7 separate regions of the Homo sapiens genome follow, and all the other regions are reported to be linked to region 2. Evidence: microRNA targets listed by miRTarBase, many of them from high-throughput screens and not tested one by one. Region 2 holds a microRNA gene; each other region holds the end of a gene's coding sequence.

Region 1 (4,000 bases), not on the chromosome of region 2:
TTTTCCATCTTTGGTTTCGTTTTGTTTTAGCCACCCAACTTACATGGCTCTCAATTTTTTCTCACTGCTAACTTTTTTTTTTTTTTTTTTTTTTTTTTTGGTAGAGACAGGGTTTCACTATGTTGGTCAGGCTGGTCTCGAACTCCTGACCTCAAGTGATCCACCTGCCTCGGCCTCCCAGAGTGCTGGGATTACTGGTGTGAGCTCACCACTAACTTCTTAATAAGCCTCTTTCCTGATCGATGCTATTTTCTCTGATGTTTCCAGCTCTGGATGGATCCCAGATGGACGAGGTCGATGGGTAAAAGATGAAAATGTTGAGTTTGACTCTGATGAGGAGGAACCACCTGATCTCCCCTTGGACTGATACCCTTTTCCCATTCATTCACAAATAAATTACAATGGGTGCTGAGAACTTAACTTTCCTTAAGTCTGGTTCCTTGTTGGATCTCAGGATTTCAGATCTGTTCATTCTCATTCCAACTACTCCTTGCCTGCAAGGTACACAGCTCTCCACACTCCTTTTTTTTTTTTTTTTTTTTTTGAGGCAGAGTCTCGCTCTATCGCCCAGGCTGGAGTGCAGTGGCACGATCTCGGCTCACTGCAAGCTCTGCCTCCCAGGTTCACGCCTTTCTCCTGCCTCAGCCTCCTGAGTAGCTGGGACTACAGGCGCCCGCCACCATGCCCAGCTAATTTTTTGTATTTTTAGTAGAGACGGGGTTTCACTGTGTTAGCCAGGATGGTCTCGATCTCCTGACCTCGTGATCCGCCCACCTCGGCCTCCCAAAGTGCTGGGATTACAGGCATGAGCCACCGCACCCAGCCACGGCTATCCATACTTCTAACCCCTCCCCCACCTCCTACCAAAGCCATGCCAAGCGTCAGCTGCATCAGCCTGGTGCCCTATTAATAAGACTGTCAAAAAGAGGTCTTTGCCCTTCATGTTGTCTGCCTGCTTCTCCACTACCACTCAAAGTCCTTTCCCCCTTCAAATCACATAAGGACTGCAGGTAGGCACTAGGGGGACCTGGCCACATCTGGAAACAGGGCTGTGGCTAAGTTCCCTGTGAAAGTAGAAGAGTCAAAAGGCATTGGCAGGGTTATGGGGAACACCAAGGGAGGGAACACCCCCACCTCCTCCTAGTAACCTGAACCTCCCTGCCTGCTGATCCCCAGAGTATAAATAATCCCCTGGTGAACTGGCAGTAACCCTTGGGGGTTAGCGCCAAGATTCTCACCCCAAAGCCCAAGGAAGGAGGCAGGCAAAATGGATAGAAGGGCTTTTATTTACAGGAAAGGAGGACAGATGAGGATTTAAGTGTCCAGTGCTCCCAGCGCTAGTTGGTAAAGGGAAATGCAGTGTTATCTCTTCTTTTGCTGGCGACCTGTAAAGGAGCAATATTAAACATAAGTGTTTGTTCCAGCTCCTGCTTTCTGCAAAGGCACTCTTCTCCTTTCCAGTCCCTTAGCCAAACTCATAAATTGGTAGTGTCTTAGGCCACCTTACAGGCCCATCCCACATTAACAAAACAAAACAAGAAACCACACCACAAATAAAATTACGATACCTCTAAACAAGTATGATTATCTCTGGCATCCTTTCTACCTCTCTACTGGTCCATATTTGGGGCAGGGGGAGTTTTCTGTTTACTTTCTGATCACTCTTGGGATTTGAAATTCTCATATGAATAGCTCTTTGGTAGCACCCTGGGCTGTTAGTCATTAGGTCTGCTTTCAGGAGGATCCACCAATTTCTGCACTTCCCTGACCACTCCACACATCATGTCTGCAGTTACTCACGTAGTTCATTGTTTCGGGTCATGGCCTGGGCTGCCCGAGCTCGTGGCCCCTGCTGTGTAAAGTGGTAGCCAAAGCGGACAATAGAGGGACACTGCTCTAGCACGGTGGCCATCTCCATCTCCACTGCATCACCAGGCCACTGGCGCTGGGGGAGGGAGAGGCAAAAGCTGACAGTCACCCTCTCTGGGCTGTTTACCATCCCACATCACAGACCCCTTTGGGAGGTCAAAGAAGCTTGTTTCTCCACAGTGGGTGAAGAGAGATGCTGACTTGGCTTCCCTCACAGAGACAATGAAGAGGAGAATTCAAGCAAGATTAAGTAAGATAGCTGCCCCACTGGCTGGCTCAGGGAGGAGACTCAATGAGACTGAATGCTAACATCAGGGGAAGGGAATGCTGACCTGATTGTCTACACGGAGCTCAGTGAGTGTGGCATTTTCCCGAACTGCCTTCAGCACAGCCATGAGTCCTGTGCTGCTAATGAAGTTGGATTCGATGTTTAGGCTCTGGAGGCTACGATTCTCACGCAACATGTCAGCCACTGCCTGGGTAGTAGGGACTTGGGTTAGGATTAGGGAACAGTTTCACAGATGACTGAGGAAAGAAAGAACAGGAGCAAGAGGGAAACACAGCTCTTTGAGAAGAGTCTTTCAGGTGCTGTAAATGGAGCTAGAGGGATACAGAAAGCAGGGCGGATAGCAGGGGAAAGCAGGGAGATGAATGTGCAGTGGGACTAGGGGTGTTAGAGAGAGTAGAGAGTTATGAGCCATAGCACTGAAGGTAGGAGTCTCCATGAGGGCTGCCCTAAGAAGGCATGATGAGAATAGCACTCCCTAGCAAAACCCTTTATGACAGCCATGCAACAGGTGCATGTAAGATGTGGGGAGAGGGCTGGGGATGTCAACTAGCCTTACATTGGCAATGGGGTCACCACTCCTCGTGGCTACCAGACTGAAGCTCCGCACATAGGTATTTGCCTTCATTGCCTCACACAGCTCACTTAGCATGGGTATTGGGATGTCCTATCGGAGGGGAATAGGAGATGGTGGGCTAAGGGACTCTCGGATGTCAGTGGTTATCCGGTGTTATGGTTTGGAGGATGCAAGTCAAATACCTGTATATTATTCAAGTTCACCTCCTCCAGCTCCTTGTCATTGCTTCGGACCCTCTTTAGTATCTCCTCAATGTTTGTGGGATTTGGGGGTTCATCCGGCACTGGCTTATACTTGTCAGGCTGTACCACACCTGGTGAATGAGGGCAGGAAGGGAACCCCAACATGTTCCCCATAATCTCCTCCCCATTGGTTTTCTTTTCTTTTCTTTTTTTTTTTTTTTGAGATGGAGTCTCGCTCTATCCACCTAGGCTGGAATGCAGTGGCACAATCTCAACTCACAGCAGCCTTGACCTCCCGGGTTCAAGAAATTCTTGTGCCTCTGCTTCCCAAGTATAATATCTGGGATTACAGGCATGCAACCAGCTAATTTTTGTAGTTTTAGTAGAGACAAGGTTTCACTATGTTGGCCAGGCTGGTCTTGAACTCCTGACCTCAGGTGATCCACCTGCCTCGGCCTCCCTAAATGCTGGGATTACAGGCATGAGCCACCTCACCTGGCACTCCACAGGTTTTCTTATCACTCATGCAGCATGTCCTCTCCCAGAATCATCAATTTCACCCTTTTCTACCTTCTCCCAGACACTAGGACTGCCTGCCCAGAGCCCTGGGGACCATGCTCCCCAAACACACTCACTGCTAATGCCTTCAGTGTTGCAGATTTCTCCACTGCAGAGGGCATCATAGTATTGCTTGTTACTCATCAGTGTGTACATGTCCAGAATTGCTGGAGAGGGTAAGAAGAGGAGTCACAGGGAATGAGAAGGAACCTGTTCCAAGCCTCCCTCCTACCTATTTCTGAATCTGTTGCATTTGTAAAGCCTGACCACTTACACTTTGCCAAAGAAGTTTCCCACCCTCTTTCAGCCCCAGGGGTCCTTTCCATAAACTTCTTAAGGCAGTAGTTTCTAAAACATTGAGAAAGGGCTAAGGGAAGGTCCCTTATGAGCCACTAGAGGATAAAGGAGTCTGTAGAGACTCTCCTCTTTCAGCCAGAATGGTTCCACTTTTTTTCCCCCCGAGACGGAGTCTCACTCTGTCCCCCAGGCTGGAGTGCAGTGGTGCGATCTTGGCTCACTGCCACCTCC
Region 2 (4,078 bases):
TGGGATGGGAAAGGGTGGTCTGGCCTCCACCTGCTCAGCTCACTTGCCCTCTAGCCACTCTCACTTGAGCCTCAGCCTCCTGTATCTGCTGCTGCTGCTGGAGCCCAAGGGGCTGGGGCCATGGCTGGGTGCCCCAAAGACAGGAGAGAAGGAGGTGCTGGGGCTTTGCGCCCTGGAGGGGACAGCTAGAGACTCATCAGGCAGGAAGTATCTCCTCTTCTTGATTCTGATCCTTCACCCACCTATGTCAGCCTCACACCTGTACCTGTACACCTGTGGGGCAGCCTTCCCCACCTGTGGTTTTCCCCACTTCTGGAGCCCTAGAAGAATATGTAGAGCAGGCTTGGGGTGTGGCCCCATGGAGCACCCCCAAACTGCCTCTGGTCCCCAGGCTCCGGCTTGTGCTGTCCCTTCCCGCTGTCTGGATTTTGGCCTGTCTGTGGGACCTTGAGGAGCCTGGAGCCTGGAGCTGCCAGCTCGTCTGGGCCCTCCAGGCTCCAGGATCTCTGGAGGCCATGGGTGGGGCTGGTGCTGGCCTTGTTGGTGTTGCTCCTGCTGGAGTAGTGGTGCCCTCTGGCATCTGTGCCTTCCACGGCAGGTCACTGGTGCCATTTGCCATGTGCAGTGGGTGCTGGAGTCTAAGCTCGTGGAAAACTTCCAAGGCCTGGGCTATGGTCCTCATGGCCGTGCGGCCTGCCTTGACACACACAGAAGGGACACATGCACTAGTGTGCGTTCAGGGGACACGTGAACACACCCCTCATATTCAGACAGGTGTAAACAGCTCAGCCACACAAGTGCTGAGCTCCAGCAGACTCACGCACGCAGCCACACATATAGACAAGGTACAGGTGTAGCCAGTGTGTGAACATTGATAAGTCTGTCAAGGCAGATATGTGCACAGTCCAGAACACAAGACGGGTAGAAAGGCAGACCTACAAATGTGCACAGATCCCTGCCAACAAACATGCATATCCATACATGCACATATGCATACACAAGCTGTCATGGGCACACTTACAGGGGAACATGCCTTACTCAGAGCACAGAGCATTTCTCCAGCCCTCCCTGCATCCACTGCAAATGGGGACACATGTCCTATCCCTCAGCAGGCAGGGAAGGGCTGGGGGAGGGAACTTCACCTTTTCTTAGACCCATGGCAATGGAAAGTGGGCACCATCTTGGGTGATGTAGCCAAATGTCTCCTGTTCTGGGAGTCTCGGCACACATAGAAGATTCTGGAGAGGAGGGGGAGGTGCAAGGCATGATCCACTTCAAGCAGCCACCAAGCCCAGTGGGAGCTGGGTCTCTGGGCTTAGCAAGACAAGAGCCCAGGGGCCGAGGCTGAGCTGAGGAGCCTCCAAACCTGTAGACAGGGTCATGCAGTACTAGGGGCGAGCCTCATCCCCTGCAGCCCTGGCCTCTGCAGGGACAAGGGAGAGGAGAGGGTACGTCTGCAGGAGGGATTGTGGATTCAGCCTCCCATGTAGGATATGAAGCGACTCAGGCTGGGAGCAATCAGAGATCCCTGGGTTTGTCATGGCGCTGGGGTCTCCTTAGGACATCAGAGCCAGCTGTTACCTGCAGGGAAACCATCCAGATATATTTAGATACACACATACTTAGCATTGCATTACAATTGCTGACAGTATTCAGCACAGTACCATGCTGTACAGGTTTATAGTGTAGGAGCAATAGGCTATGCCATGTGGCCTAGTTGTGCAGTAGGCTACACCATCTAGGTTCATGTAAGTTTGCCCACCAAAATTGCCCGGTGACACATTTCTCAGAATGTATCCCCATCTTTTTTTTTTTTTTTTTTTTGAGATGGAGTCTCACTCTGTCGTCCAGGCTGGAGTGCAGTGGCACGATCTCGGCTCACTGCAACCTCCGCCTCCCGGGTTCAAACAATTCTTCTGCCTCAGCTTCCTGAGCAGCTGGGATTACAATCACGTGCCACCACACCCAGCTAATTTTTGTATTTTTAGTAGAGATGGGGTTTCGCTATGTTGGCCAGGCTCATCTCGAACTACTGACCTCAGGTGATCCGCCCACCTCGGCCTTCCAAAGTGCTGGGATTACAGGCATGAGCCACTGTGCCCGGTCGTATCCCCATCATTAAGTAACGCATGACTGTGTTCATAAGGTTGTGCAACCGGTTCCACTATGGCGCTCCAGAACATTTTTGTGACCCCACAAGAAACCCTGTGGCCATGAGATGTCACTCCCCATTCCGTCAGCCTCTGCAACCACTAATTCACTGTTCGTCTCCATGGATTTTCGTATTCTGGGCATTTGGTAGGAATGGAATTAGACATTATGTGGCCTTCCGTGTCTGGCTTCTTTCACTTAGCATAATGTTTTCAGGGCCCTGTGCCTCTGGTTTATAAGTGAGGACACTGGCCCAGACAGAGGGAGTGACTGTCCAAAGTCACATAGCAGCCAGGAGTCAGGCCCCTACACAGTGTTGGCTTTTTTAGGACCTCAGCCTTGGTCCCTGGGGTTGTGGGCTGTGGACAATGGAAGAGGTCACACTTCATCTAAAGGGGCAGCTATTACTCAGCTCTGCCTGGGACAGAATCCAGGGGCAGCACTGCCTAATACTAAACACTGTAAATAATGATACAAACGGCCAGGCACGGTGGCTCAAGCCTGTAGTTCCAGCTACTTGGGAGGCTGAGGCAGGAGGATCACTTGAGCTCAGGAGGTCAAGGCTGCAGTGAGCCATGATTGTGCCACTGCACTCCAGTCTGGGTGACAGAGAAAGACCCTGTCTCAAAAAAAAAAAAAAAGTTACAAATAACACCAGCTAACATTTTGCATGCTTCTTTTGTGCCTGGTGCTGTTCTAAAGAAGTGCTGTATAGGCACTTTCTTATTTAATCTCCATGACAATCTTGGTGAAAGTGCTGTTATTATCCCCGTTATGCAGACGAAGGAAGCAGAGCACAGAGAGGTTAAGTAACTCAGCCAAGGACACACAGCAAGCTAGTGGCAGAGTTAGGATTGGAACCCAGGTAGTCTGACTCCAGAGCCCCTGCTCTTACCCACCTATACAGATGCATTCCTTCTTCCAGATTTGTAAAGGAAGGCAGTAATACAGATTTTAATGTGAAACCTCATAAGTTTAAATGTTTCCAAGTGTCGACAACTTATGACAATTGTTTTTTGACACCGTACAGGCTGCAGGGCCTAAGCCTGGAAAGTTTCGTTTAATACAAAGGGAGAGGGCCCTCACCTTTGGTTTCTTCCTCAGCATCACTGCCATTCTGTCCAATACCACTTGGTCATCTTCTCCCTGACATTTCTTGCAGAGGCAGAGAGAGCCTGACATTGGGCACCCAGGTCCCGCTGAGGGTCGTGCTATAGCAGACAGCCCCATGGCCTGGTGCTGGCCTTGTGCCTGGCAGTGTGACTCTGGGCCAGTCCCTTCCCCTCCCTCAGTCATTCTTTTCTCCTCTGCAACCTGGGCGGGGAAATTTCTCATGGGATTAAATGTGATAACTGGCACAGACTAGTCATTCAATAGCCATGGTTTTTTTTTTTTTTTTTTTTGAGACAGGGGTCTCACTATGTTGCCCAGGCTGGTCTCGAACTCCTGGCCTCAAGTGGTCCTCCACCCTTGGCCTCCCAAAGCTCTGGGATTACAGGCATCAGCCACTGTGCCTGACTGCCATAACCATTAGCTGACCCAGAAACAACGGGAGATACAACCTGTTGTATCTGCATAAAGGGCCAACATTTGGGTTGCAGAGGTTTGTTGAGACTAATAATACCATTTATTGAGCACTGAGATAATTCCAGATACAGTGCACATTACATGCATTGCCTCATTCAGTCCTGAACTTTTTAAGCCCTGGAGGCCAGCCATTAAGGTTATGGGCCTAAGGTTTGAGCTAGGCGGCTGATATGGTTTGGGTGTGTCCCCACCAAATCTCATCTTGAATTGTAGTTCCCATAATCCCCACATGTTGTGGGAGGGGCCCGGTGGGAGGTAATTTAATCACGGGGGTGGTTACCCTCATGCTGTTCTCATGATAGTGAGTGAGTTCTCACGAGATCTGATGGGAGGGACTTTC
Region 3 (4,078 bases), not on the chromosome of region 2:
GACTCCAGCTCGTATCAGCCATCAACCTCTCCACTGCCAAGGATTCCAAAGCCGTGGTCACCTGTGTGATCATTGTGCTGTCAGTCCTGGTGTGCTGTCTTCCACTGGGGATTTCCTTGGTACAGGTGGTTCTCTCCAGCAATGGGAGCTTCATTCTTTACCAGTTTGAATTGTTTGGATTTACTCTTATATTTTTCAAGTCAGGATTAAACCCTTTTATATATTCTCGGAACAGTGCAGGGCTGAGAAGGAAAGTGCTCTGGTGCCTCCAATACATAGGCCTGGGTTTTTTCTGCTGCAAACAAAAGACTCGACTTCGAGCCATGGGAAAAGGGAACCTCGAAGTCAACAGAAACAAATCCTCCCATCATGAAACAAACTCTGCCTACATGTTATCTCCAAAGCCACAGAAGAAATTTGTGGACCAGGCTTGTGGCCCAAGTCATTCAAAAGAAAGTATGGTGAGTCCCAAGATCTCTGCTGGACATCAACACTGTGGTCAGAGCAGCTCGACCCCCATCAACACTCGGATTGAACCTTACTACAGCATCTATAACAGCAGCCCTTCCCAGGAGGAGAGCAGCCCATGTAACTTACAGCCAGTAAACTCTTTTGGATTTGCCAATTCATATATTGCCATGCATTATCACACCACTAATGACTTAGTGCAGGAATATGACAGCACTTCAGCCAAGCAGATTCCAGTCCCCTCCGTTTAAAGTCATGGAGGCTATAGGATCTTATGTAAACAGTTTTTGTTTCTGATAGTAATGGACTTTATTCTAACTTGAGATCAGTGGCGGATCAAAACCTACAAGATTCAACTGAAAAGTTGGCAGTTATGGTTTTCTTTCATCTGATGTGTCAGTATCTGTTGATTTGCTTTGTAGTTTGTTGACATCTTAAGATTTGATGTGAAAGTTTTAGATTTTTTACCCTGCTCTTTGCCTCAGTCTTTTGTACCGAGCCTTTAAATAGATGCCAGGAATGAAGCTACTGTGTTAAAGTAGAAAGTCAACCGATTATCATGATTTGAGTCAGTGTTATGTGACTTCAAAATAAGGTATTGACTGGATTTTTTTTAAAGAATGTGAAAATATGATTTTTGCTGAGGTGTTATTTTTATTAATTGAATTGTAAATTTTGATTTTTTGAAGTGTTGAAATCGGGAACACTACACCTTGTTGGTAGCAGGTTGATTTGAATAAATAATATATTGTTAGCTGGGTGCAGTGGCATGCACCTGTAGTCCTAGCTACTTGGGAGGCTGAGGCAGGAGGATCACTTGAGCCCGGGATTATGAGTCCAGCCTGGGCAACACAGCAAGACCCTGTCTCTAAAGGAAATGTATATATTCTTTTTTTTTTTTTTTTTTTTTTTTTTTTTTTGAGACGGAGTTTCACTCTTGTTGCCCAGGCTGGAGTGCAATGGCATGACCTCGGCTCACCGCAACCTCCACCTCCCGGGTTCAAGTGATTCTCCTGTCTCAGCCTCCCAAGTAGCTGGGATTACAGGCGCATGCCACCATGCCCGGCTAATTTTTGTATTTTTATTAGAGACAGGGTTTCTCTGTGTTGGTCAGGCTGGTCTTCAACTCCTGACCTTAGGTGATCCGCCTGCCTCGGCCTCCCAAAGTGCTGGGATTACAGGCATGAGCCACTGTGCTTAGCCAGAAATATATATATTCTTAAGGCAGAAAAGGTGATAACTCTGTCTTTACCAAAAACACTCACACAGGTATTAGGTACTTTTCTTTCATAGGACAGTCAACTAAGAATATAGTATTATGATTATTGCCATTTCTTATTATAGACATGTTTTATGTCAGTTGAGTAGGTTTACAATTCTTTTGAAAAGAAATATATTTGGGCCGGGCATGGTGGCTCACACCTGTAATCCCAGCACTTTGGGAGGCTGAGGCGGGTGGATCACCTGAGGGTCAGGAGTTCGAGACCAGCCTGGCCAACATGATGAAACCCCGTCTCTACTAAAAACACAAAAATTAGCAAGGCATGGTGGCAAGCACCTGTAATCCCAGCTACTCGGGAGGTTGAGGCAAGAGAATCGCTTGAACCTGGGAGACAGGTTGCAGTGAGCTGAGATCGTGCCATTGCACTCCAGCCTGGGTGACAAGAGCGAGATGTCATCTCAAAAAAATGAAAAAAAGAGAAAGAAAGAAAGAAAAGAAATATATTTTTGCTTGTTAAAAGTGAATTATTTATTTATTTATTTTTTTCCTGAGAGGGAGTCTTGCTCTGTTGCCCAGGCTGGAGTGCAGTGGCATGATCTCTGCTCACTGCAACCTGCGCCTCCCGGGCTCAAGTGATTCTCCTGCCTCAGCCTCCTGAGTAGCTGGGATTACAGGCGTGTGCCACCATGCCCAGCTCATTTTTGTATTTTTTAGTAGAGACAGGTCTTGAACTTGTCTTGAACTCCTGACCTCAGGTGATCTGCCTGCCTCGGCCTCCCGAAGTGCTGGGATTACAGGCATGAGCCACCCCAACTGGCCCAAAAGTGAATTGTTTCTGAATGATCTTATTCAAGAAGCCTAGTGAAGAGGACTGCATCTATGGTAGAGGTGCACTGTTCCCAGGAGAGAAGGCACTGCGGTAATCATCTCGGTGTTCTGTGGAAAACAGTGTGGACTCCTGTCATGCATTGGGCAATATTTATTATTGCTTAACAAGGTTTACAGATAAGACTGGGAATGTTTTGATTTATGTTTTCCTTCTGTGTGAGAAGAGTTTACTAACCACCTGACAGTATTCAAGTAACTATTTAGAAATGACTTCTTTTTTGTCTTTATTTATTATTATGGTAGAAAAATTCTCAAGATAATCTATTTTCAAACTAATCATTTTATTTCTCTCCCATTAATCTTAAAGTGGAAATGGGCAGAAAGAAAAAATAGATTTAAGTATTTCTATACCTGAAACTAATTTTACTATATGCTCTGAGATTCCTAGCATAACAACTGTGAACTCATATTTTATTGTAAAAATATTTTCAGTATACAGTTAGTATTTGAACTCACTAGGTTTTTAAATGTTAGACACACAAGATGAGCATCAATATACAACACCTATCTTTATAAATTGTTATATTCAAGAGTTATTATTGCAGATTGGAAGGTACTTTGTTCCTTTGCGTAAAAGTCTTTTTTTTTTTTTGTAGAAACAGAGTCTTACTCTGTCACCCAGGCTAAAGTGCAGTGGCATGATCTCAGATCGCTGCAACCTCCGCTTCCCGGGTTCAAGCGATTGTCTTGCCTCAGCCTCCAGAGTAGCTGGGATTACAGGTGCCCGCCACCACTCCTGGCTAATTTTTGTATTTTTGGTAGAGACAGGGTTTCACCATGATAGCCAGGCTGGTCTTGAATTCCTGGCCTCAAGTAATCCACCCACCTCGGCCTCCCAAAGTGCTAGGATTACAGGCATGAGAAACCACATCCAGCTGAAAGGCATTTAATTTATAGTTTCCTCCCTCAGCTCTCCCCAAATACAGGGGTCATGAGAGGTATAGAGAAGACAGAATAGATATTCAATTAGAACTCTGCTCAACCTTATCTTATAACTGTTACCTTTCAGTATTGATCAGTTATTTCTATTTTTGAGATTTAAATAGGCATAGATTTTCTTTTGTTTTCTTTTTCTTCTAAATTTTTTTCTTGCCACACCCAGGGGCAGCCTCGAATTATTTTGTTTTTAAGTTCACCTTTTAGACTGATTTGCCTACCTACTCCCTCCTTCTTTCCCTTTCTCCCTCCCTCCTTCCCTTTTTCCCTTTTCTTTTTTTTAAGATGGAGTCTCATGCTTGTTGCCCAGGATGGAGTGCGGTGGCACAATCTCGGCTCACTGCAACCTCCGCCTCCCAGGTTCAAGCGATTCTCCTGTGTCAGCCTCCCGAGTAGCTGGGACTACAGGCACGCACCACCACTCCCAGCTAATTTTTGTATTTTTAATAGAGACAAGGTTTCACCAAGTTAGCCAGGCTGGTCTCAAACTTCTGACCTTGTGATCCACCCACCTCGGCCTACCTAAGTACTGGGATTACAGGCGTGAGCCAGTGCACTGGCCTA
Region 4 (4,076 bases), not on the chromosome of region 2:
TTTTGCCCAGGACTTTTTCCATTTTAAAACTAAGAGTTCTGCATCCCAGGAAACCCCGCAGTCCTGGACAAACCTGGATAGTTGGTCACCCTACCTGCAGTAAATATAAAGGTATGGACTGTATCTAAAATAGTGCCATGAGCGTCTCACAAGATCGTGGCTACAAATCCTTAGCCACGCCTTAGCCAATGCCTTAGAAGTTGGCATTGAAAATATAGTACTGAACTACTTCTGTGACTAGGTGGCACTGTTGCTAATGTGGAACCGTGTTTTATCCGGACAGGTGGGGATGCATTCCAAAGGAACTCAGACAGCAAAGGAAGAGATGGAAATGGATCCAAAGCCTGACTTAGATTCAGATTCCTGGTGCCTCCTGGGAACAGACTCCTGTAGACCCAGCCTCTAGTCTCCTGAGCCTGTAGAGCCCCCAGGAGACTGGGACCCAAAGAACTTCACAGCACACTTACCGAATGCAGAGAGCAGCTTTCCTGGCTTTGTTCACTTGCAGAAAAGGAGCGCAAGGCAGAGGCTCTGAAGCACTTTCCTTGTACATTTGGAGAGTGGCATTGCCTTTTAGATAGGATCTAGGAGTGATTTTATTGTTTTGGAGAATGGAAGGGCCCCCATGGCCCTGGCTTTGTCATCAGTGACTGCCATAGCAACAGCAGCTCTGTACCTCATCTGTTGATCCCACCTTTGAAGAGGAGACACAGTGCTCACCTTAATTGCGCTGGTAGCAGCTTATATCCCATGTATCATTTTCACCATTGATTGGAAGCTGCCTTGGGAATTCAGTACCAGGCATTACCCCTCTGGGTGGGAGAGGGAGAAGTGTAAAGTTGGAGTGGGCTGGAATCAGGTGTGGCCCGCCCAGTGTCCTCTGCAGAGTGGTGAAGTAGTCTGGCCCTCTTGGGAGCCCTGAGTCCAGGAAAATATGTCTGATGGAGTCAATCTAGGGCTTGTTTCGAAAAAGTTCAGTTACTCTGTGCAGCTAAATGCTTTAGGAGGAAAGGTAGGCTTAGGTTGCTTTTCCTCTGAGGGTTGATTGAAATTTCTTCAGTGAGGAATAGAGAAAGGGCAGGACCCTCCTCATCACACAGCTGGTGTTTCAGGCTGTGACCAATGCAGGGTGGGATTTCCTAACTGTGGATGAGGGGATGAGGTGTCTCTGAGGGATGAGGTGTCTCAGAGAATTGAGTCCATGGGGCAGTCAGAATAGCCTTAAGAGAAAATCATGAAGGAGAAGAGGTCCTCCTTTAGCTGCCTCTACTTGGTATCTTAGAGAGGGCTTAGAGGGCTCTCAGTCTTCTGCCCATGAAAAGACTTCTTTGAGCCTCTGCCTTCATGGCTCTTAGGGTTCTGATCTTGATATCAGCAGCCCCAACCACTTTCTTTCTGAATGTCTAGTCAGTATTTTTCCCCTTTTGGTGTTTTATGAAGCCATGTGGTAACGAATGAATCTGTATCATTTTTCCTACCTGAGTGGCCCAAAGCCAGCACCAAACCCTGGGAGTCCCTGAAGCCTAACAGAACAGGTAGAACTTGCAAAAGGAATTTGGCTGAGAGCTCACTTCTAATCCTGTACTCACTGTGTCTTTGTAGATAGAAACAAGCTAGCTTTACCAAAGAGAAATAGTGTCATAGAAGAACAAAACTTCATATAGAAAGTTCTAGGCAAGTATTTGATGGTTTCCTTAAGGATGTGAGCTTTGTATTTCCACCTAGCCTTGTAAAATGTTCCTGTGGTATTTTGTGTCACACATCCTACCTTTGATGAGTCTCACATCCCACCTTCCTATAAACAGCTAAATTAATTTTGTTTCATCTTCCCCAGACCAAAATGTTTGATAATCTTATCAACATTGTGGGAGGTCTTGTGCAATGGAAATTTTGCCATTTCTCCAAAACTGGTGGCATAAAGGCTGATGCTTGGGGAGAACCCCATTGCTCGGGACAGGCAACTCTGTTCAATGGGATCTTCTTTGGTTTGATGTTCCCATTGTTTTCTCAGTTCTGGGAAGCCTAGTACATTAGTACTAATGTAATCACTGAAACCTTTTCTTGAAATAAGGGAAGCAGCCAAACTTTGATTAAAGTTGCAAGTTCTGGGGACTTGCGGGGGTTGTCATAAACTGTAACAGTGGGTTTTGGTTCAGCATGTAAATGCAACTTTGATTTTCTTGAGGACCGATTGACCTGTCATGTCCCTGTATCCTCATGCTCATCATCTCAGCAGGCCTGAGAGGCTGGGTCAGTTTGGGTGTTCATCATGAGGATTGCTTCTGCCATGGAGCTGATGGACATGGGCAGGTTGCTGAGAAGGTGGGGTGAAAGTGAGTGCCGGGGGTGGGTGAGTGCCCTGGTCTTGTTCATAGGGGAGCCTTTCCCTAGCAGTGGAACGCTGTGGTCATTTTCTCTAGCATATTCCCTTGGGAAGTCTAGATTTGCTATTAATCTGGCTGAGAATCTAAGTTCTGTGCCTTAGAGACAGTTTGCACTTTCCCATATTGTGCCTGGGACAGCCATATGATTTTTTTTCCCACCAAACAAGTATGCAAACAGAAACCAGTTCAAAGGGGGATGGAGTAAAAGATGAGGCAGTAGAAATGCCTTTGAATGGTTTTCTGTAGCTAATTCTCTTTAAATTTTGTCCTGCTTTTTTTCTTTATGCAGTGCTAGGTGTTTTAAGTTTTCTAGTAGTATTGCTTTTGAGTTACAGTATAACCTGAGTTACTCCTCTGCTCTAACATTGTTGCAGAAGAACTAGTTTATTGTTAGCCAGGTTGCTTGAAAGGTTGAGAGTGGAGTGGTTTGGCATTTCTGTTTTAAATAAACATTTAAGCTCTTAATCAGTACTGTGCTTCAGTAAGCCTGTGCATGGACCTTAGTCTCTGGGGATAAAACATCCAGATTCTAAGCCTCCGTGAATCTTTGATTCTGTGAGTCTTTATATAAATAATGTTCTTGGAACAGAAACAATGCAAGGGACATCTGCACAGAAATATTCTTTGCTTCTCTCCAGTTTCTTATTCTTGCCAGCAGAATCATTGCTGCTGCTACAGCTTTTTTCCCAAAAATGTCTAAAAGTGCCGAAAGTGCAGAGGGAGGGAAAAAATGAGCCACTAAAAGAAGGATGATCCTTTCTTGTACCTACCTCCTCAGTCTCAGTGGGGGCCTTTCCAAGTGATAATGCCAGTTTATGGTTTGTAAAACTTTTCCTTCAAAGAGATTGAACTGAATTTGGTCTCCCTGGCATAGCACAGCCAAGTTACAACTTCTCTTGGCTGAGCATTTCACTGAAGTTTAAAGCAAAAGTACACTAAAAAATTTCATTTCACTTGCCATATGTTCACAAACATTCATAATAGAACAATTCAGGGGCAAGAATACATTTTAAATAAATTCATTCACATGAAATCCCTAAACCTCCAAAAAAGTATTCATGATGGTCAGGGCAGAGTGGGCTATAATCAGGACTATAAAACATGTTCCTAACTGCTGCAAAGCCAAAAATCATTTATTGTTTCAATGATTAACTGTGGAAATAAACACGCTGATCATTAAACCTCACAGAATGATGAACATTAGGGAGAAAAACTCCACTATGTCACATCTCTGTTACCACCTGTGTAGCTGTGGAGAGTGATAAATTGATAATGAAAGCAAACATTGGCCAGAAGGTGCTGTGCTGCATTACATACATTGCTGTTAAGAAATACTGTCTCGGGCCAGACGCAGTGGCTCACGCCTGTAATCCCAGCACTTTGGGAGGCCGAGGCGGGCGGATCACGAGGTCAGGAGATCGAGACCATCCTGGCTAACACAGTGAAATCCCGTCTCTACTAAAAATACAAAAAAATTAGCTGGGTGTTGTGGCAGGTGCCTGTAGTCCCAGCTACTCTGGAGGCTGAGGCAGGAGAATGGCGTGAACCCAGGAGGCGGAGTTTGCAGTGAGCTGAGATTGCGCCACGGTACTCCAGCCTGGGCGACAGAGTGAGACTCCATCTCAAAAATAAAAAAAAAAATACTGTCTTGGCAGGACAGGCGCGGTGGCTCACGCCTGTAATCCCAGCACT
Region 5 (4,070 bases), not on the chromosome of region 2:
TGGGGATTGGGGACATGGGCCCAGACAGCTATGCGCTGGTTCACAGTCTGCTATTTCATTAAGAACCGTAGGAAATGTAAAAATAAGGCAAAGGAATACAAATGAATTGAAAGGGTTCTAGAATATCCTTTTTAGGAAAGCAAAGGGACAGGGAAAGTGTAGTTGGTGAAGCCTGATCACTCATGTTCCAAGATGAGAGGACAAAAATTCACTTAGAGAAAGTTGACAGAGGTAGTCAGACATCAGCATAGTCATCTCCACTGAAAGTTTGGCTGAAAGGTCAGGGTGGCGCTGAGGGGACAGCAATGAAACCCACCCGCACCGGGTGCTCCTTCGCCGTTAGAGCTTCCTGCGACTGCAGTGGTGGCGGCGTGTGGTTTCGCTGCTTGGTAACAGTGAGCACAAACCCACCCTCTCTTCTCTTCTCAGAATTTGAGGTTAACATCGTGGTGCTGCTTCACCCTGACCACCTCATCACGGAGAACTTCCCGCTGAAGCTCTGCAGGATATAGCCCGGAGGAGGGAAGCATAGAGAACGGGAGTGGCCATCTGGAAATCCAGCTGGTTATCCAAATCCTAAGGGGAGCTACAGCCAGCGGCATATACTTGTTTTTGTGATTATTCTGTATCAGAAATGAAACAGACCCTCAAATTAACTTTCCTTCCTCATTTCTTGAGGCTTCTGCTTCCAACAGGCACCTCTAATCAGACCTTTTCTTTGAAATTCAACAAGATTTCTTAATGCTATTTGCCAAGACCATTTCACAGAAAACATTGACTGTGGCTCTTGCCTTATCTGTTCCTTTTTAGGTACAGTAAAACAATTGTGACAGCAGTTTGAGCTTGCTGGAGAGTGGCATCATGGGGACAAAAGGAAACCTCTGACTTGCTAATGGATGTAGCCAGGGACTCCCCATAGCAAAGGGTCTGTGGCCAGTTGACATCCAGGATGGCTGCAAGCGCACTTGATGGTCAGGAAGTTTGCAGATACTCGCCAAGGCAGAGCGCAAAGTGCTAGCCACTGGAAATGCATGACTTCCCTCCACCCCTACTCTATTCTGTAGTTTTTTGGTTTTGTTTCTGAGACGGAGTCTCAGTCTGTCACCCAGGCTGGAGTGATCTCAGCTCACTGCAACCTCCACCTCCCAGGTTCAAGCGACTCTCCTGCCTCAGCCTCCCGAGTAGTTGGGATTACAGGTGACTGCCACCGTGCCCGGCTAATGTTTGTATTTTTAGTAGAGACGGGGCTTCACCATCTTGGCCAGGCTGGTCTTGAACTCCTGACCTCGTGACCCACCCGCCTTGGCCTCCCAAAGTGCTGGGATTACAGGTGTGAGCCACCACACCCAGCCTCTGTAGTTCTTTTTACAACATTTTTCATTATAACTTTAAATTTTTTAAGCAACTGGAAAAGTGTTCCTTGCTCTCTTGGGGGGATTTGGCTGGTGCCGAAGTGTTTCTGAAGTCTCAAGAACTGCCATAAAATCTCACGCTGCCATTTCCCTGAACAGATACATACATAGAGAGAGACAGTTTTCCAAACTGTGTCACGCAGGCTGAGTGCACTGGCAGGATCACAGCTCACGGCAGCCTCAACCTCCCTGGCTCAAGCGATCCCTCCCCTCAGCCTCCTGAGTAGCTGAGACTACAGGTGAGTGCCACCACACTCAGCTAATTTTCAAATTTTTTGTAGACAGGGTCTCCCTATGTTGCCCAGGCTGGTCTTGAACTCCTAGACTCAAGTGATCCTCCTGTCTTGGCCTCCCAAAGTGCTGAGATTACAGGTGTGAGCCACTGTGCCCAGCAGTTTCCCAGAATATATTTAAATGCAAAGTTACATGAGGGGAAAACATGTATGTTTGCTCCTGTTGTTACTGGGTAGGTTCTGAACAGCAGAAACCCATGTGCAGGGTGGGCTGGTGAAGGCCCCTCTCCGCAAGGTGGTAGCAGGAAAAGGTCCTTGACTTGATGAATTTGGTCTGCCTCTGAGCCACTGGAGGAAGCTGTTTTGAGCCAGGGTTTTTTGGCCTAAAGCCAGCATTTCCTCAGTCTCCCTTTGTGGTTCGAAGGATATGGACTATTGCAATACATTTCTTCCTTCAAATCCTGCCACTGTTTTGTTGGCCCACAACTAATAGGACCTCAAAATAAGCCATGCTGCTTTGCACACACACTAGCCTTCTTTTGTACTTTTCATTCTGGATGGGCTTGGCCAAAACAGGCTCAGGCCAAAGACCTCCCAAGCTGTATGTACTTCCAGTATCCTGAAACAGTGTTTGGTGACATAATGCCAAGGGTAAACAAGCCTGATTTAGGCACTGCTTTATCCAGGGGCTTCACCCATGAAATTAATAAAACTTATCTGAGTCACTTGAAACTTGGTTCCCAGAAAACACATTTCTGGTTTATAATCTCCTTTTATGCTCACCTGACATTAATTATCTATCCTTGATGATGTGTTTAAACTGAGTAGCAGAAAACAGAGGCCACACTTTCTGGGAAATTTTAAAGGAAGAAACCATTTTTAATGAGATGAAAATATTTAACGAATTTAAAAAGCTAATGACAATTTTGAGAAAAGGTTTGGGATGTATATTGCTATGTAATTTAATAAACTGATTTTATGGATATAAATATGACTGCTTTCCTTAGAGAATAATTATTACCTGAAGCGCATCCAGACAACGTGGCTACCTTTATCATTTCATTCAACCCTGAGTGGCCCAAACAAAGGCCTCAGGCCGGCCACTTCCTTCCACTTCTTGGTCTGACCTCTCCATGATCTGTTACTAGGCAAAACTCAGATGTTTGGCTACCTTGGGCTGCAACTGTCCCACTCTTGCCCAGGCTTGCTGGAGTTGGGGTTATCCACAGTCAGAGGTTCAGAGTTGTCAAATTCTCCAATTAGAGCAAGAGATGAGGAAAGGAAAGGGAGACGAAAGAAAGAGGCTGTGCCTCAGAAATAATAACGCCGCATATCTACAACTATCTGATCTTTGACAAACCTGAGAAAAACAAGCAATGGGGAAAGGATTCCCTATTTAATAAATGGTGCTGGGAAAACTGGCCAACCATATGTAGAAAGCTGAAACTGGATCCCTTCCTTGCACCTTATACAAAAATCAGTTCAAGATGGATTAAAGACTTAAACGTTAGACCTAAAACCATAACCTAGGCATTACCATTCAGGACATAGGCATGGGCAAGGACTTCATGTCTAAAACACCAAAACCAATGGCAACCAAAGGCAAAATTGACAAATGGGATCTAATTAAACTAAAGAGCTTCTGCACAGCAAAAGAAACTACCATCAGAGTGAACAGGCAACCTACAAAATGGGAGAAAATTTTCGCAACCTACTCATCTGACAAAGGGCTAATATCCAGAATCTACAATGAACTCAAACAAATTTACAAGAAAAAAACAACCCCATCAACAAGTGGGTGAAGGATATGAACAGACACTTCTCAAAAGAAGACATTTATGCAGCCAAAAAACACATGAAAAAATGCTCATCATCACTGGCCATCAGAGAAATGCAAATCAAAACCACAATGAGATACCATCTCACACCAGTTAGAATGGCGATCATTCAAAAGTCAGGAAACAACAGGTGCTGGAGAGGATGTGGAGAAATAAGAACACTTTTACACTGTTGGTAGGACTGTACACTAGTTCAACCATTGTGGAAGACAGTGTGGCGATTCCTCAGGGATCTAGAACTAGAAATACCATTTGACCCAGCCATCCCATTACTGGGTATATACCCAAAGGACTATAAATCATGCTGCTATAAAGACACACGCACGTGTATGTTTATTGCGGCATTATTCACAATAGCAAAGACTTGGAACCAACCCAAATGTCCAACAATGACAGATTGGATTAAGAAAATGTGGCACATATACACCATGGAATACTATGCAGCCATAAAAAACGATGAGTTCATGTCCTTTGTAGGGACATGGATGAAATTGGAAATCATCATTCTCAGTAAACTATCGCAAGAACAAAAAACCAAACACCGCATATTCTCACTCATAGGTGGGAACTGAACAATGAGAACACAT
Region 6 (4,068 bases), not on the chromosome of region 2:
GCTGCCCGGGTAGTTCTCATCAATGGACAGAAGGCTCCAGCCCATTGAGAGTCCTGTAAAACAGGGCCTATCAGGTCACTGGCCCCAAGGTTGGCATTAGGGTGCAGCATTTAAGAGGGCACCAAAAATCTCAATAATTAAGATAGATAACATTTTAATGCAATATTTAAAAGATAATGCATGCAATCCATGGTGAACAAGATACCAAAATTTTAAATTAAGACAAGATCAATAATAACAGCCTGGGGAAATCAACAATACTGATCCTATCCCAGCCTGGCCCACCCCACCAGCACAGGCTTTCCGTGCCGAAATGGGGGCGGTGGACTCCCTGTGGCTGAAGGGGCCATCAGGTGGAGACCTGTTACATTCATGTGTTTCTTTTCTGTGCCACTCAGTGGGGTGCAGGGACAGCAACCCAAAACCCTCCCTTTAAGTCCAAATTAGCTATGGGCCCCGGCCCAGGGCCAGGAAACATGCCCCTTGTCATTTCAGCAGACTGAAGAAGCTGCCGAGTAAAGTGCTGGATGACATGGATGACGACGATGACCTCAGCACGGATGGGGGAAGCCTCTATGAGGCGCCTGTGAGCTACACATTCTCCAAGGACAGCACCGTCGCCAGCCAGATCTGAGTGCTCTCCCGGGCTGTGGAAGTACCTGTCATTCCTGCAGGAGCTGCAGCCACCCAAAGTGGGAGGCAGGGAGGGGAGCATCTGTCTGCCACTGAGACCAATCACAGCCTCTTTGCACAGCATGCCAGCTCCTCAGTGTTACATTCCTCGCCAGGGTCTCTCAGTGGGTCTTCGACAGAGAGCTTTTGCAGTTTAAAATGTTGGGATGCCTGAGGACCAGGAGCCACCACCCACTGGGGTGTTGTGAGAGATACACTTTGGTAGGCTGAGGCCCCTGTTCCACAGCCACTATTTGCATTGCTGTCCCTGCCCCCTCATCACTCCCCCTGCCAAGACAAAGGGTCCAGAAGGCTAGGACTTACTTAATAGCACTGTGCAGGGAGGAAACCATGTATAGCTTGTACATATTTTAAACCAGACCTTCTCACGAACTGCTGCTGTTGGGTTTGGAATGTGATGGAGGCTTGGTAGGGTGGCTGGTTTGTAAAGTTCATGCATCTATATTGAGTATTCTTTTTTTTTTTTTTTGAGATGGAGTTTCATTCTTGTTGCCGAGGCTGGAGTGCAATGGCGCAACCTTGGCTCACTGCAACCTCTGCCTCCCTGGTTCAAGTGATTCTCCTGCCTCATCCTCCCAAGAAGCTGAGATTACAGATGACCACCACCACTCCTGGCTAATTTTTTGTATTTAGTAGAGACGGGGTTTCACCATGTTGGTCAGGCTGGTCTTGAACTCCTGACCTCAGGTGATCCACCTGCCTCAGCCTCCCAAAGTGCTGAGATTACAGGCATGAGCCACCACGCCCAGCCATTGAGTATTCTTTTTTAAAATATGAAGCTATTAGATTTTAAGTGTTGAGGAGCAGAGGTGAGAAGAGAGAGAGAGAGAGAAAGTCAAATAAAGTCAAAGACCAGTTTGGAAACCAAAGTTGGAAAAGAAGAATTGTAGTGGTCATGGACAGCTAAGACTGAGCATAGCAGTTCACATGGTCTGGGTAAACAAGTCACTGGCACAGGGGAAAGCCAGAAGGTTGCTTGTGTCTGTGACTGCAGCTATGGCCTTGTTTGCTTAGTTTATCTGGAATTCTGTTATAATTTCTGAACTGTTCTGAGACCTGTTCCCAGTCACTGATTGCAATTTCTTTTACACAGGTTGGGTAGGGAGAGTTGTAGGTAAGGCCTTAAACAAATGAGGCCGTTTCTGGAAGGATAGGGCTGTGTGGTCATGTCCCACAGCAAGCTTTTGGGATCGGGGGAATAAGAGGGTATGGGGGAAAGGTTCATAGACTTAGGTGTGAGAATGAGGTGGGAGGTGTCTGGTAAGGTCATGGGGGAAGGGAGATGAGAGAGGAGATAGGCAGATGTGGGTATGGGGCCCAGTGTGAGAAGGAAGACAGAGAAGTTCTTGAAAGCTGGGGGATGTGTGGGCAAGAGGTGGATTGAGCAGGATCTCAGGGTTATGTCGAGGAAGGGAAGAAAGAAACAGAAGTCAGGCAGAGGCGTGTCTGTGCAAACTGGAGGACTCCTTCCAACTTCCTGGAACAAAGCGACATCGCCAGCAGCAGGCTGGCAGGGAGTGGTTGAGGTCTGGGGGCCAGGCCACATGGCTGGAGAGGAATTTCAGGGAGCATAGCATCGGGAGGATGCTACATATCCAGGGACTCCCTCCTGGCCTTCCTGTGTCACTTCACAATGTGACAGTCCCCAGGCATGCCCACAGGCCAGGCCCAGTCACAGCTGGGCTTCCACAGGTCAGAATATGGGACAGGACATGGTCAGGGAGAGGACCCTGTGAGTTGGTGACATATATGTGGCAGAGATGGTAGTGTTCAGCTGCTTCAGCAGTGTCCCCAACCATCCCAATAGGGTGGGGGCCTGTGGGCCAGAGGACTCCATGACAGTAGCCATGGAGTCCCACCTGTGCCAGGTCAGAGCCCACCCGGCAGGTTTCAGAGTGGTCAGCCCAGTTTAAGGGTGGGAGTCTGGAGCCAGACAGCCAAGCCCCTTCCACATCTACAGGGTCACTGTCATCCTCACCACAGCCAGGGGTGATTCTCACCTCTGCCTGCTTATGTGGGGTGTGGCCGATTCCTCCCTTTAGTCATTCATTCATTTAGCACATATTTATTGGGCATCGGTGATGTGTCAGGCACAGTCCTTGGCACACAGAATACAGCAGTGAATTAAACAGGCAAAAATTCCTCCCCTCCTGGAGCTCAGTGTCAGGAAAGGGGGTGATAAATGACAATCAAATCGACATGGAGGTTGAGCACCTCTGTACTCAGCCCTCTGTCTGTCCTTCTGAGGACGCAACAAGCCTGGTTCCCTAGAGCTCACTTTGACCCTCAATATGTTCATAATTTCCCTGCTGCTTCTCCCATCGTTAGACATCTGCCAGTAAGCCTGCTGAGAGAAGCCTCAGCCCACTCATACCTAGAGACGCTGCTGGGGAAGGTCAGCACACCCAAGAACTTTGGGAGTGTGTGTCTGTTTTGGTTTGTGAGAAAGTAGCTGCCCCTCATTCTGGCCAGTTCTTTCCAGTAGCCATGGGGCTGGCTACAAGAAGCAAAACTGCCCATGCAAAGAGAACACAGGTCACTTTTCAAAACACTTGCATCATTACCCTAAAAATAGGCTGTTATGCGTTTTGACAATTGCGCTATCCTACACTCTGAGGGAGTTGGCAACGCATGCGGTATAGTGGAGTGGGAAGAGTTGAGACTGAAAGTTAAGAGAAGGGTTTTCAAGTCCCGGCTCATCTCACCCCAGTGACTTTGACAGTGTGCTCACTCTCAGAGCCATGGATTACCTGGAACAAAGTGCAGATTAGTGCCCACGGTCCTTTCCAGGTATAACATGCTATCGTTCTTTAATTTTATTATATATACATACTTTTCTTCTGTTTTTTGCTTTAAGAACTAACCCCGATCAAGAGTATTTTCTTTAGCTAGCTTAAAAAGAAAACATATATTTTATGTAAAAACACATACATGGCCAAATGCAATACTGAAGAGACAATCATCCTGTATCTTTTATGGTTTTTCCTGCTTCTGAGTGTCGTTCTACAATGCCCGTTGACTTATTCCATTGCGTCTCTGCTTTAGGGTATGGTTTGGTCGCTTTGGTTGTCATGAGAAAGAGACATTCTCCTTGCAGCTACCTCCATGTGAGTGAATTCCTGGATAAAGCAAGATTTCCTTTCAATAAACGCTGTCACCCAATGGGAATTTTGACTCTCCTGTGATTGTGACTTCTTTGTTTTCTCCAGAGCTTGGCTCTGTGTCCTTTAAGAAACTGCCAAGGTGAGTGGCTGGGAGCTACTGAGGGAAGTGGAACTTGGAGGCCTTCCAGCCCTGGGACCGGTTTCTGAAACAGAAGGGTGGGGACTGGTCAGTGGTGAATGCTGAGGGAATTAATGGCTCTGGATTCTTGTG
Region 7 (4,078 bases), not on the chromosome of region 2:
TGTCTAAGAGGTAGTAGAGCATGGTGATTGACAGCATGGGCTTTGGAGTCAGACTACCTGGGTACAAATCCAGTTTCACCCCTATTAGTTGTGTAATCCATAATGTGTTTTTTTAGTTTCTTCTGTAAAATAATAGGTTGTTATGAGAACTAAATGAAATAATATATGTAAAACACTGAGGGAAGTACTAGGTTACTTAATAGGCTAATAGGCATTCAACCAAGATAGCTGTTATACTTAATGTAAGTTTATTTTTTACATTATTGGCTGTATAATAGACTACAAGAATAGAAAACAAACACTTGAAAATGAAAACAAGAACACCAACCTCGATTTTTTTTTTGAGATGGAGTCTTGCTCTGTGGCCCAGGCTGGAGTGCTGTGGTGCGATCCCGGCTCACTGCAAGCTCCGCCTCCCGGGTTCACGCCATTCTCCTGCCTCAGCCTCCCCAGTAGCTGGGACTACAGGCACCCACCACTGCGCCTGGCTAATTTTTTTTAGTAGAGACGGGGTTTCACCATGGTCTCGATCTCCTGACCTCGTGATCCGCCCACCTCGGCCTCCCAAAGTGCTGGGATTACAGGCGTGAGCCACCATGCCTGGCCCAACTTCTTGATTTTATGACAAGATAGAAACTACAACTAAAAACAGCTAGAAAATGATGAAAATGAAAAAACACATGGTTGACCAAGCTGACTTTAGAGGAAAGTTCATAGCCTTAAGCACTTCCATTAAAAGAATGAAAATATATGCAACACACATTCAATACTAGAGTTAACTTCTATTTTCTTTTTTTTTTTTTTTTTTGAGACGGAGTTTCACTCTTGTCGCCCAGGCTGGAGTGCAATGGCACGATCTTGGCTCACTGCAACCTCTGCCTCCTGGGTTCAAGTGATTCTCCTGCCTTAGCCTCCTGAGTAGCTGGAATTACAGGCACCCACCACCACACCTGGCTCATTTTTTTTGTATTTTTAGTAGAGATGGGGTTTCACCATGTTGGCCAGGCTGGTCTTGAATTCTTGACCTTGTGATCCGCCTGCCTTAGCCTCCCAAAGTGTTGGGATTATAGGCGTGAGCTACCGTCCCCAGCCTATTTTCTCTCTTTTTTGAAACGGAGTTTCTCTCTTGTTGCCCAGACTAGAGTGCAATTGCACGATCTCAGCTCACTGCAACCACAGCCTTTGGGGTTCAAGCTATTCTCCCGTCTCAGCCTCCCGAGTAGCTGGTATTACAGGCATGTGCCACCACGCCCGGCTAATTTTATAGTTTTAGTAGAGACGGGGTTTCTCCATGTTAGTCAGGCTGGTCTTGAACTCCCGACCTCAAGTGATCTGCCCGCCTCGGCCTCCCAAAGTACTGTGATTACAAGTGTGAGCCACTGCGCCAGGCCTGTTTTCTCTTTTTTAAGGTGGAAATCAATAAATTAGGGCCGGGCATGGTGGCTTATGCCTGTAATCCCAGCACTTTGGGAGGCCAAGGTGGGTGGATCACCTGAGGTCAGGAGTTCGAGACCAGCCTGGCCAACATGGTGAAACCCCATCTCTACTAAAAATACAAAAAAATGAGCCAGGCGTGGTGGTGGGCACCTGTAATCCCATATACTTGGGAAGCTGAGGCAGGAGAATCACTTGAACCCGCGAGGTGGAGGTTGCAGTGAGCCAATATCACGCCACCGTACACTCCAGCCTGGGCAACAGAGCGAGACTCCGTCTTAAAAAATGAAAGAAAGAAAGTAAAACAGGTATATAGAAGATACTGAGAATATTTTCTACAACTCTAGGCAAATGCATTTGAAAGAAAGCCTCAATGAAATAGATGTTCTCCTAGAAAAAGTACAAGTTATCAAAATTGATGAGAGGGTAAGGGAGAAACAGCTGGAGAAAAGTGCCAGAGAAATAGTCTTTAAAAAAAAAAAAAAGGCCGGGCGCGGTGGCTCACGCCTGTAATCCCAGCACTTTGGGAGGCCGAGGCGGGCGGATCACGAGGTCAGGAGATCGAGACCACGGTGAAACCCCGTCTCTACTAAAAATACAAAAAATTAGCCGGGCACAGTGGCGGGCGCCTGTAGTCCCAGCTACTCGGGAGGCTGAGGCAGGAGAATGGCGTGAACCCGGAAGGCGGAGCTTGCAGTGAGCGGAGATCGCGCCACAGCACTCCCGCCTGGGCGACAGAGCGAGACTCCGTCTCAAAAAAAAAAAAAAAAAAAAAAAAAATTCCAGGCCTAGATATATATACCACTTAATTCTTTCAAATCTTTGAATATCACATTTTCTTTGTTATTTAAACTTTTCTGGCTGGGCGTGGTGGCTTATGCCATAATCCCAGCACTTTGGGAGGCCCAGGTGGGCGTATTACCTGACGTCAGGAGTTCAAGACCAGCCTGGCTAACATGGTGAAACCCCATCTCTACTAAAAATACAAAAATTAGCCAGGCGTGGTGGCGTGCGCCTGTCATCCCAGCTACTTGGGAGGCTGAGGCAGGACAATCACTTGAACCTGGGAGGCGGAGGTTGCAGTGAGCCGAGATCATACCATTGCACTCCAGTCTGGGCAACAAGAGCAAAACTCCATCTCAAAACAAAAACAAAACTTTTTTGAAGTATAAAGAAATAGTCTTTTCTTTGCAGGTTACTTAAATATAGTTATATTTTCATAACATGGCTTAATAATTTATTGTGCCATCCAGCTGAGATGTATAAATCAAAACCACAGCAGTGATTTTAACGTTTAAACAGGACAGTCTACAAAAAAGGAAATACAAATGGCTCAAACAAATAAACAGATACCTAACTTCATTCTTGTTTGTTTTAAAGAGATAAGGTCTCACTCTGTTGCCTAGACTCTGGAGCATAGTGGTGCAATCATGGCTCACTGCAGCCTCAAATTTCTGGGCTTAAGCAATCCTCCTGCCTCAGCCTCCCAAGTAGCTGGGACTTCGGGTGTGCAGTACCACACTTCACTAATTTAAAAAAAAAAAAATTGTAGTGATGAGGTCTTACTATGTTGCCAACCTCATCTTGAACTCGTGGCCTCAAGCGATCTTCCTTCCTGTGTAGGCCCTCAAAGGGCTGAGATTATAGGTGTGAACCACCACGCCCAGTCCCCAACCTTATTCTTAAGTGAATATACAAAATTCTACTGAGATTAAAACGCCATTTTTAAAGTAAGAGATTAGGAAAGATCAAAACATTTGATAACACTTACAAAGATTTAATAGGCACTCTCATGCATTGTGGGTGGGACTGTAAACTGGCACAATCCTTATAGATGGCAACTTGCCAATATCTATCAAAAGTAAAAATGCACATATCTTAACCTAGTAATTCTAACTTTAGATTTCCAGCTTACAGTAAACTCACTCATGTGCAATGTGACCTATATAAAAGGTTATAAAATGAATCATTATTTATAATAGCAAAAGGTTAGGAAAAAAATGTCAGCAGGGACTGCTCAAATATATTATGGTACATTCATACAATAACATCTGCAATTATAGACCAAGAATCAAGAAACTCTTCATGTAACGACATGGGACAATCTCAAAAATATGTTACACAGAGAAGACAAGCTGAAGAACAGTATACACCGTACAATACCACTTAGGAAAAATACCTCTAGAGGGATATTTAAGGAAAAGATAACACTTTTTGGGAAGAGAAAATGAGTTCTAAAGGAGGGAAGGAGACTTCACTGTTTATCGTTCTGTGTCTTTTGAATTTTGAACAATTTTGAAATGAAAACATCCCAATGGAAATACAAGTCTTTTAGGTAAGTTCAAATGAGCATGTATTATATTTCTTTCATCTGACTGATAAACTTTTCCACAATTTCATTGAGTCTTTCAGGCTCCATTAGTTTATTTACCAACTCCTGCTCAACAGCCATTAGGGCTGGGCCAGTAAGCTTCTCTTGTCCCATGGTATTACATAAATATGTCTTAAGACGAGGCAGGGTAGAAAATGAGTTCTCAGTACTTGCTGAAGTAATTGGCCAAGACAAAGCAATATATAATAGCTTTGAGAGACAAGGAATATTACTGTGAAGACCATGCTGAATAAACAAACAGCCGAGACTGAC

What was found. The annotated mature microRNA hsa-miR-4478 reads GAGGCUGAGCUGAGGAG and lies in region 2 at 1,341-1,357, shown strand. An mRNA with a match to its seed (bases 2 to 7 or 8) in the 3' UTR can be bound and repressed. Matches are read on the target gene's strand: a 7mer-m8 pairs with bases 2 to 8, a 7mer-A1 pairs with bases 2 to 7 and ends in A, and an 8mer does both.
Region 1: miRTarBase lists SCNM1 as a target of hsa-miR-4478. Seed matches in the 3' UTR shown: 7mer-m8 at 642-648 and 7mer-m8 at 891-897.
Region 3: miRTarBase lists GPR75 as a target of hsa-miR-4478. The part of its 3' UTR that is shown has no 7-base or 8-base seed match.
Region 4: miRTarBase lists NEK9 as a target of hsa-miR-4478. The part of its 3' UTR that is shown has no 7-base or 8-base seed match.
Region 5: miRTarBase lists VPS26C as a target of hsa-miR-4478. Seed matches in the 3' UTR shown: 7mer-m8 at 1,170-1,176 and 7mer-m8 at 1,624-1,630.
Region 6: the mRNA of CGNL1 is a reported target of hsa-miR-4478. Seed matches in the 3' UTR shown: 7mer-m8 at 1,395-1,401.
Region 7: miRTarBase lists ZMYM1 as a target of hsa-miR-4478. The part of its 3' UTR that is shown has no 7-base or 8-base seed match.

The regions. Positions count from the first base shown.
Region 1 is chr1:151,168,719-151,172,718 of GRCh38, forward strand. SCNM1 (sodium channel modifier 1) reads left to right here. Exons shown (of 7, transcript NM_024041.4): 7 at 268-1,578. The coding sequence ends at 367. It overlaps TNFAIP8L2-SCNM1 (TNFAIP8L2-SCNM1 readthrough), which reads left to right. Exons shown (of 7, transcript NR_144937.2): 7 at 268-1,578. It overlaps TMOD4 (tropomodulin 4), which reads right to left. Exons shown (of 10, transcript NM_013353.3): 5 at 3,550-3,639; 6 at 2,915-3,045; 7 at 2,715-2,822; 8 at 2,202-2,345; 9 at 1,801-1,945; 10 at 1,269-1,385. The coding sequence ends at 1,363. Among named protein-coding and RNA genes, the nearest start is that of SCNM1, 4.6 kb to the left of the region's middle.
Region 2 is chr9:122,117,426-122,121,503 of GRCh38, reverse strand. MIR4478 (microRNA 4478) reads left to right here and starts at 1,337; the gene lies at 1,337-1,422.
Region 3 is chr2:53,849,775-53,853,852 of GRCh38, reverse strand. GPR75 (G protein-coupled receptor 75) reads left to right here. Exons shown (of 2, transcript NM_006794.4): 2 at 1-941. The coding sequence ends at 719. The region is part of intron 1 of GPR75-ASB3 (GPR75-ASB3 readthrough); the gene reads left to right. Among named protein-coding and RNA genes, the nearest start is that of MIR3682, 2.6 kb to the right of the region's middle.
Region 4 is chr14:75,080,894-75,084,969 of GRCh38, reverse strand. It overlaps NEK9 (NIMA related kinase 9), which reads left to right. Exons shown (of 22, transcript NM_033116.6): 22 at 284-4,076. The coding sequence ends at 406. Among named protein-coding and RNA genes, the nearest start is that of ZC2HC1C, 13 kb to the right of the region's middle.
Region 5 is chr21:37,221,986-37,226,055 of GRCh38, reverse strand. It overlaps VPS26C (VPS26 endosomal protein sorting factor C), which reads left to right. Exons shown (of 8, transcript NM_006052.2): 8 at 430-2,634. The coding sequence ends at 512. Among named protein-coding and RNA genes, the nearest start is that of DSCR9, 16 kb to the right of the region's middle.
Region 6 is chr15:57,546,857-57,550,924 of GRCh38, forward strand. It overlaps CGNL1 (cingulin like 1), which reads left to right. Exons shown (of 19, transcript NM_032866.5): 19 at 499-3,861. The coding sequence ends at 634. Among named protein-coding and RNA genes, the nearest start is that of GCOM1, 43 kb to the right of the region's middle.
Region 7 is chr1:35,114,972-35,119,049 of GRCh38, reverse strand. It overlaps ZMYM1 (zinc finger MYM-type containing 1), which reads right to left. Exons shown (of 10, transcript NM_024772.5): 10 at 3,191-4,078. The coding sequence ends at 3,791. Among named protein-coding and RNA genes, the nearest start is that of ZMYM1, 38 kb to the right of the region's middle.